Linked DNA regions of Homo sapiens. The protein of the gene in region 1 purifies or fractionates together with the protein of each later gene. This does not show direct contact. Each region holds a gene or a part of one and is shown in the gene's direction. Other genes may lie near its edges.

Region 1 (3,672 bases):
AAAACAAGAGCAAACAAAACAAAACAAAACAAAACTTGTACATGAGAGAAAATAATGGGTTGCAAGTTGTAATATTTGTGCATAAGTCTGGGAAAGGAGTGTGGAGAACCCTCTCTGAAATAGGAAGTATGGAAGGATTCCTTGTGTTAATACACTGATTTAAATTAAATGCTTCTGAACTTCAGTCCTTGTTTAAAAGAATGATTTAATCTCGTGCTTTGTGATGTTAGATTTCTTAAGCTTTGAGTGTTTTTACCTTTAATTCTGACATGTATGAAAATTTGTAAACAGGTTTTATGGTTTAGTCTTGTGTGAGAAGTTTGTTCGATTGTATTTTCGACTACTTTTTCCCTTATATGGCCTTTTATCCCATTAGTTGTTCATTAGAAAAAGGCAAATTTATGGTCATGAGCAGTTGACACTGGGGATATGTTTAAAACCATTGTTTTTATTTTACTGCTTTTGTCTTAAGACAAGGCTTTTAGTGTATTTCACTACAGCTGCAGTTGAAAGTTGGCACAAAGCTTTCCCTACCATATCACTCTTCTCCCTTATTAAATGTTAGTCCTTGAACATTTAGTATAATTTATTTTCAAGTTAAACTCTTTTCCCTTTTTGGCATAGTCATTCGTGAAGGCAGTGGGACTGCCAGTCATTCTTTACATTTTTCATACTGTAATTCCTTTAACTTTTATATATTAATAGGTTTCTAACTGATCTTTTTCACCCTGAAATAGTTGGCTCTTGTCTCTTACCCACAGGATCTGCATTGGAGATTTGTGAGACCTGTATTTCACAGAATTTTTTTATTCATCCTGCTTTCGCTTATTTAATATCGCCAATCCACGTGATTCTTAGTTTTGGGCCATATAGATGTAGGATGGGCAAAGATAGTTTCTTCTGTCCATTCTGAATACTATACAATCTTTTTTGGCCTTACTATCTTTTTGTGTAGTTTCTTATTTTGCTACCTAAGCAAGTCGGAATTTTATTGTTACTAGAAAAATAAATTGTGGATCAAGTCAGTAGCTAATGAAGACTTTTAACAAGTTCACCCCCTTTCTTTTGAAAGGAACTTTTTCAGGGTCTTTCTCTGTCACTTAGTTTGGGGTACAGTGGTGTGATCATGGCTCACTGCAGCTTCCACATCCTAGGCTCAAGCAGTCCTCCCACCTCAGCCCCCTGAGTAGCTGGGACTACAGGCATGACTACGCCCGGCTAATTTTTTTTTCTTCAGTATTGTTAAGTGAGGTAGGGTCTCACTATTTTGTCCAGGCTGGTCTCAAACTCCTGGGTTCAAAGGATCCTCCTTTCTCAGCCACCCAAAGTGCTGGTTTTACAGGCGTCAGCCACCATGCCCGGCTGGAACTATCTTTTCAAATAACTCCTGCTAAGGATTGTAGCTTAGTGTGGGTGCTTTAGTACTGAACCTCCTTGGAACTTTTGCATTATTTATCTAAAGCATTATAGCAGTGAGTCTAGAGCCAGAAAGAGTGCCTCTTTTATGATATGCATAACAAAAAAAAATTTTTTTTTTTTTTGAGATGGAGTCTCACTCTTTTGCCAGGCTGGAGTGCAGTGGCACGATCTCAGCTCACTGCAACCTCTGCCTCCTGGGTTCAAGCGATTCTCTTGCCTCAGCCTCCCGAGTAGCTGGGATTACCGGCGTGCGCCATGAAACCTGGCTAATTCTTTTTGTATTTTTAGTAGAGACAGGGTTTCACCATGTTGGCCAGGCTGGTCTTGAACCCCTGACCTTAAGTGATCTGCCCATCTCAGCCTCCCAAAATGTAATCCTAATTAGAGGCCTGAGCCACCACTCCTGGCCAACCTTTTATAGTTTTGATTTTATTAAATAATTTGATTGAGGTAATGAAATATAGATGTGTTCCATTTTTAGAAAACTCCAGTCTGATAATTTAGAAAGTATTTGTTGTATACTTAAAGTTTTCCTTATTAGGAACATCTTTATTAGACTCAACACTGACATATATATATATATATTTTTTTTTTTTGAGACTGAGTTTTGCTCTTATTGCCCAGGCTGGAGTGCAGTGGAGCGATCTCGGCTCACTGCAACCTCCGCCTCCTGGGTTCAAGCGATTCTTCTGCCTCAGCCTCCTGAGTAGCTGGGATTACAGGCATGCGCCACCATGCCCAGCTAATTCTGTATTTTTGGTAGAGACGAGGTTTCTCCATGTTGGTTAGGCTGGTCTCAAACTCCTGACCTCAGGTGATCCCGCTCACCTCAGCCTCCCAAAGTGCTGGGATTACAGGCCTGAGCCACCACACCTGGCCTACACTGACTTACATTAAAGAAACTCTTCAAAACCTTTTTTTTTTTTTTTTAAGAGATAGGGTCTCACTTTGTTGCCCAGGCTGGAGTGCAGTGGTGTGATCATAGCTCACTGCAGCCTGAAACACTTGGGCTCAAGGGATCCTCTTGCCTCACCCTCCTGAGTAGCTGGGACTGCAGGTGCATACCACACTCGTTTTAATTTAAAAAAAAAATTGTTTATGCAGAAAGGGTCTCATAGGCCAGGCTGGTCTCGAACTCCTGGCTTCAAACAATCCTCCCACCTTGGCCTCCCAAAGTGCTGGTGTTACAGATGTGAGCTACCACACCCAGCCAAATAATTTTTTTTTTAATAAGAGAATATGCATTATTTCCTATGCTTCATTTGTTTTGCAATGAATGAATCTATTTTCTGCCTTCCCTCTTCCCCCTAAAAAAACAAACCAGACTTAGCCTAGATCTGGCAATGTCATTTAGATATTTTATTTCTTTTTTTTCTTTTTCTTCTTCTTATTAATTTTTTTTTTTTTTTTTTAGCTGAGTCTCGCTCTGTTGCTCAGGCTGGACTGCAGTGGTGTGATTTCGGCTCACTGCAACCTTTACCTCCTGTGTTCAAGCAGTTCTCGTGCCTCAGCCTCCCAAGTAGCTGGGATTACAGGCGTGCACCACCATGCCTGGCTAATTTTTGTAATTTTTAGTAGAGATGGGGTTTTGCCATGTTGGCCAGGCTGGTCTTGAACTCCTGGCCTCAAGTGATCTGCCCACCTTGGCCTCCCAAAGTGCTGGGATTACAGATGTGAGCCAGTGTGCCCAGCCTATTATTATTATTTTAGAGACAGAGTCTCGCTATGTTGTCCAGGCTTGTCTTGAACTCCTGGGCTCAAGTAATCCTCCCGCCTCAGCCTCCCAAAGCACTGCGATTATAGGTCTGAACCATTGCACCCAGCCTATTTTATGACTCTTTAATTGGTAAAATATAGTTGAAAAAAAATTTTTTTTTTTCCTAGATGGAGTCTTGCTCTGTTGCGCAGGCTGAAGTGCAGTGGCGCGATCTTGGCTCACTGCAACCTCTGCCTCCCGGGTTCAAGCAGTTCTCCTGCCTTAGCCTCCCAAGTAGCTGGGATTACAGGTGCGTGCCAGCACGCCCGGTTAATTTTTGTATTTTTAGTGGAAACGGGGTTTCACCATGTTGTCCAGGCTGGTCTCAAACTCCTGACCTCAGATGATCTACCCGCCTTGGCCTCCCAAAGTGCTGGGATTACAGGCATGAGCCACCGCGCCTGGCTGAAAAAATTTTTTTAGGAAAATGATTGTTTGCCTTTTTGAGACAGGGATTCTTTTGAGAAATTGAAGAATTTTCTCAGAGAAAATGGGTA
Region 2 (3,672 bases), on another chromosome or scaffold:
TTCTCTAAGGAATGTGTTAGAAGGATTGTTAGTGATTTTGCCAAAGTGAGGGCCTTGGATTCCTCACAGGGTCTGATTCTGTCCTCTTGCGGAATTGTTGCCCGCACACCACCACCTTCCTCTTCGCTGTCCTTCCCTGTGTTGTCTGTGTTGGTCCTTTGTGTGGTGTGGCAGGATGGCTGATGGACCTTCTGGCCGCTTCTATGTTTCTTCTCTGATTGGGCTTCATTCACAGCCTCCTGTTCCTGCTCTTCAAATTAACACACAGCCACGCGACCTGAGAGAAGAAGAAAAGTGTGGCCATAATCTCCAGAGGGTCAGGGTCAGGGTCAGGCTTCGTCAGCGGTTTGTTGTGCACCTTCCAGTCTTTTTCATAATATGAGGAAAATCTTCCACGGGCAGAGAAGCCTCCCCAGGCCCCATCTGTCCCTCATGGCTTACTGCTTTGTTTGAGTGGAACACGTCATCTGGTAGCTGCCAAAAGGCGCGAGGAGGGTCAGTGTTTTCTGACTTTGCTTTTCTGGAAATACCTTTAATCTCCTTTGAGGCCTGGTTGTTAGTTTGGCGTAGAAGTCCTGGTTGAAACGGTTTCCCTCGGAGCTTGGGAGGCCTTGCACAGTGTGCTCTCCAGCTGGTTGCTCCTGTGGGTTTTCCCGCGCGCTTCCTGTAGAAACCTGCAGCTGTCTGCCGTGGGTCCGTGGGGTGACAGCTGGGCTCTCCTTCTGCCTGGAGGACTTTCTCTGCTCCAGTGTGCGATGTGAAAGCCACTGAGGTGACTTGGTGGGCCCCAGAGGGGAGTTGGCCACACAGCCAGTGATTTTCAGTGTCCTCCGACCTGGGGCATTTTCTTACATGATTACCTTCTGTTCTCTACCCCTGCCTCTTGCTCACTTTTTCTAAAGCTTGTGTTAGTTGAACCACTTTAATGCTCTGATTCTTATTTTTTTTGAGACAGAGTCTTGCTCTGTCTCCCAGTCTGGAGTGCAGTGGCGTGATCTCGGTTCACTGCAGCCTCTGCCTCCCGGGCTCAAGCAATCCTCCCACCTCAGGCCTCCCGAGTAGCTAGTATTACAGGCACACACCACCATGCCCCGCTAATTTTTTATACTTTTGTAGTGATGGGGTTTTGCCAGCTTGGCCAGGCTGGTCTCAAACTTTTGACCTCAAGCGATCCACCCACTTCCGCCCACTGGGATTATAGGCGAGAGCCACCATGCTGGGCCATAATTCTCTGTTTTTTTTTCTTTCCTGTTCAATCTCGTATTTCTACTCCTTTAGGAATAGTCTTACTTCTTGGGAGATTGCCTCAACTTTACTTTCCAGCCTTCTGTGGAGACTTGAGTTTTATTAGGATTATTTTGAATCTTTAGTTCTTTCTTGCCCTCGGCACGTTCTTTTTTGCAGCCACCCATTCTCGGATAGTGCACGTGTCTCTTATCTCACTGAGATGAGCGTGGACTTTTCTTTCTTCAATTTCTTCCTGGCCTTGTGTTTGATTGCCTTCTCTGGAGTGTGTTGTCTGCCTTTCTCATTGGAGGTTTTCCTCGGATGTCTGGCGATGCCATCTGCCTGTGTGTGATGGGAGTCAGCACCAGCCGGCCTCAGAGGCTGGGTGTGTGCACCCAGGGTGGGGCCCGAGGGGCTTCAGAGCAGGTGTCTGTGGGCAGCAGCCCCTTGCCTGTGGACTCCGTAGAACGTGTGGGTCAGTCGGTCTCTTCTGGGTGGTCAGTGTCCCGGCCTTCACTCTTGCCCAGGTCTGTCCCCTGGGGCTCTGGGAGGTGAGTGCGAAGGGGCTAGGTGACTCTCTTCTCAGTGAGTATTTGGCATCCCCGAGACAGGGGCCCCTCGGCTCCGTTTCCCCAGAGCCTTCTGCTGGCCTGGAGTTTGGGGCTGAGGATGCATCAGGGAGGTCCCGTTTCTCTTTGTAAAGACATTTGACAGCTCCCCTCACCACCTTGGTCTTCAGGCTGCCTGGCCCGGTTTGGTCTTTGGCAGGTCCTGGCACCTCTCGGGCTTCTCTGTGGCTGGTGCATTTGTTCCCTGGCCTCCAGCCCCCAGGTTTCCTTGCTGTCTCTCCGCGGCTGCCTTCTCTTCTTGCCTGTTGTCTTTGTCTTAGTGGGTTCATGGTTATTAAACATCTTTTTCTTGTCTTCGTAGAGAGGTTTGGGGGTGAGTGAAATGCCTGTAGATGTGTGTGTTGGTCTCCATGTTTATCTGCCACATTTGTAGAAAGGTGTGTGTGTGTGCGTGTGTATGTGCATGCGTGTGTGTGTGCATTCATACATCCACTCTTACCTCGGCACCCAGAGGATATGCATCTACTGTTAGCTGTTTGGGGTATTTACTTTTCATCTTTTTCATTTAGTCATTTAAAAATACTTACAAATAGTGCACAGACACTCTCTCATTAGATTTAATGAGTATTGATTTATTTCTCTCCACTGAATTAGTGCTGTAATGAATTTTTTTTAAGCCAGGTATGGTGGCTCATGCCTGTAGTCCCAGCTACTCGGAGGCTGAGGCGGGAGGATTGCCTGGGCCTGGGAGTCAGAGGCTGCAGTGAGCCAGGAGCAAGCCTGTGAATAGCCACTGCAGTGCAGTGGGCAGTGTGGAATAGACCCCATTTCAATTAAACAACAAAAAAATAACAACAGATAAAACCAAGAAAAAAAAGAGAAACGCTTTTTTCCATTGATGATGGTTTTAGAGCGTGGAGCCTCTTGGTTCCTGTGTCGGCTTCCTGAAGGGTTGTACCAGTTGTCGTGGGACGGTTGCTGATGGCCATGTCCTTCCTGTCATTCTTAGTGAAGTGGAGCAGTGGCCACGAGCTCATGAGCCCACACGTGTCTCCCCGTGGGAATGCATGATTGCTGAAGTGTCTGCGCAGACCTGTGTGCATGCCCGTGTCTATGCCCGGCCCGGGCACAGCAGATGTGGTCTGGCCTCCTGGCGGATGACAACCTGGCCATCTAGCGGCCTTGGCTTATTTTGCTAGGATCTGCCTCATTGGCTTTGTCATCTGCCTGGGCATATTGGCACTCGAGAAACAGGGAATCGGTCACCTTCCGTTCCCCACCGTTGTCCTTGATGATTTGCATGAGCGATTTACACAGTCAGAGCAGAGAGCCTTTAATTCCTGAGGGTGGGTGGCATGGCTGTCACGGAGTGGAACCCCGACCACACGCAGCTGTCCTCTCTGTCACCCTACCTGACGGAAGCCCCACAACCATGTGCTAACCTGTGTGTTTGGTTTGTGCAGGACGGCACCCTGAGGCTCTGGGAGTACAGGAGCGGCCGCCAGCTGCACTGCTGTCACCTGGCCAGTCTGCAGGAGCTGGTGGACCCCCAGGCCCCCCAGGTAGCTGCTTCTGTTCACTCCTGGGCGACTGAGTGCTTGTAGACACCGGCAGTCGCCTGACTTGAGTGGAAAAGTCACTTCGCCGTTGGAAACGTTTGCTCTCAATGCCAGACTTCCTCCTGTGTGAGGGAAATCTCGTATTTCAAATTCTGAAGGTGGCTCGTCATGTCAGTGGGAAATAATTTGTCTCCCTGTTGCATGCAAACAGTTAATGTACAGGAAGGCCTCTAATCCTGCTCTGAAGTGGAAGGAATGGAGGTGCTTGAGCATGCACCTTTGTGGGTCTGCCAGCCAGGTGGGGCAGGGGTGGGGCC

Evidence for each region. The genes of interacting proteins can lie anywhere in the genome.
Region 2: the proteins of UBE2R2 (region 1) and WDR4 fractionate together in Homo sapiens (co-fractionation; one large-scale study listed by BioGRID). This does not show direct contact.

What each region holds. Positions count from the first base shown.
Region 1 is NC_000009.12:33,820,094-33,823,765, forward strand, and holds part of UBE2R2 (ubiquitin-conjugating enzyme E2 R2), read left to right. Parts: intron 1-3,672. UniProt on the Homo sapiens protein: E2 ubiquitin-conjugating enzyme that accepts ubiquitin from an E1 ubiquitin-activating protein, and catalyzes its covalent attachment to other proteins by an E3 ubiquitin-protein ligase complex.
Region 2 is NC_000021.9:42,855,368-42,859,039, reverse strand, and holds part of WDR4 (tRNA (guanine-N(7)-)-methyltransferase non-catalytic subunit WDR4), read left to right. Parts: intron 1-3,259; coding exon 3,260-3,358; intron 3,359-3,672. UniProt on the Homo sapiens protein: Non-catalytic component of the METTL1-WDR4 methyltransferase complex required for the formation of N(7)-methylguanine in a subset of RNA species, such as tRNAs, mRNAs and microRNAs (miRNAs).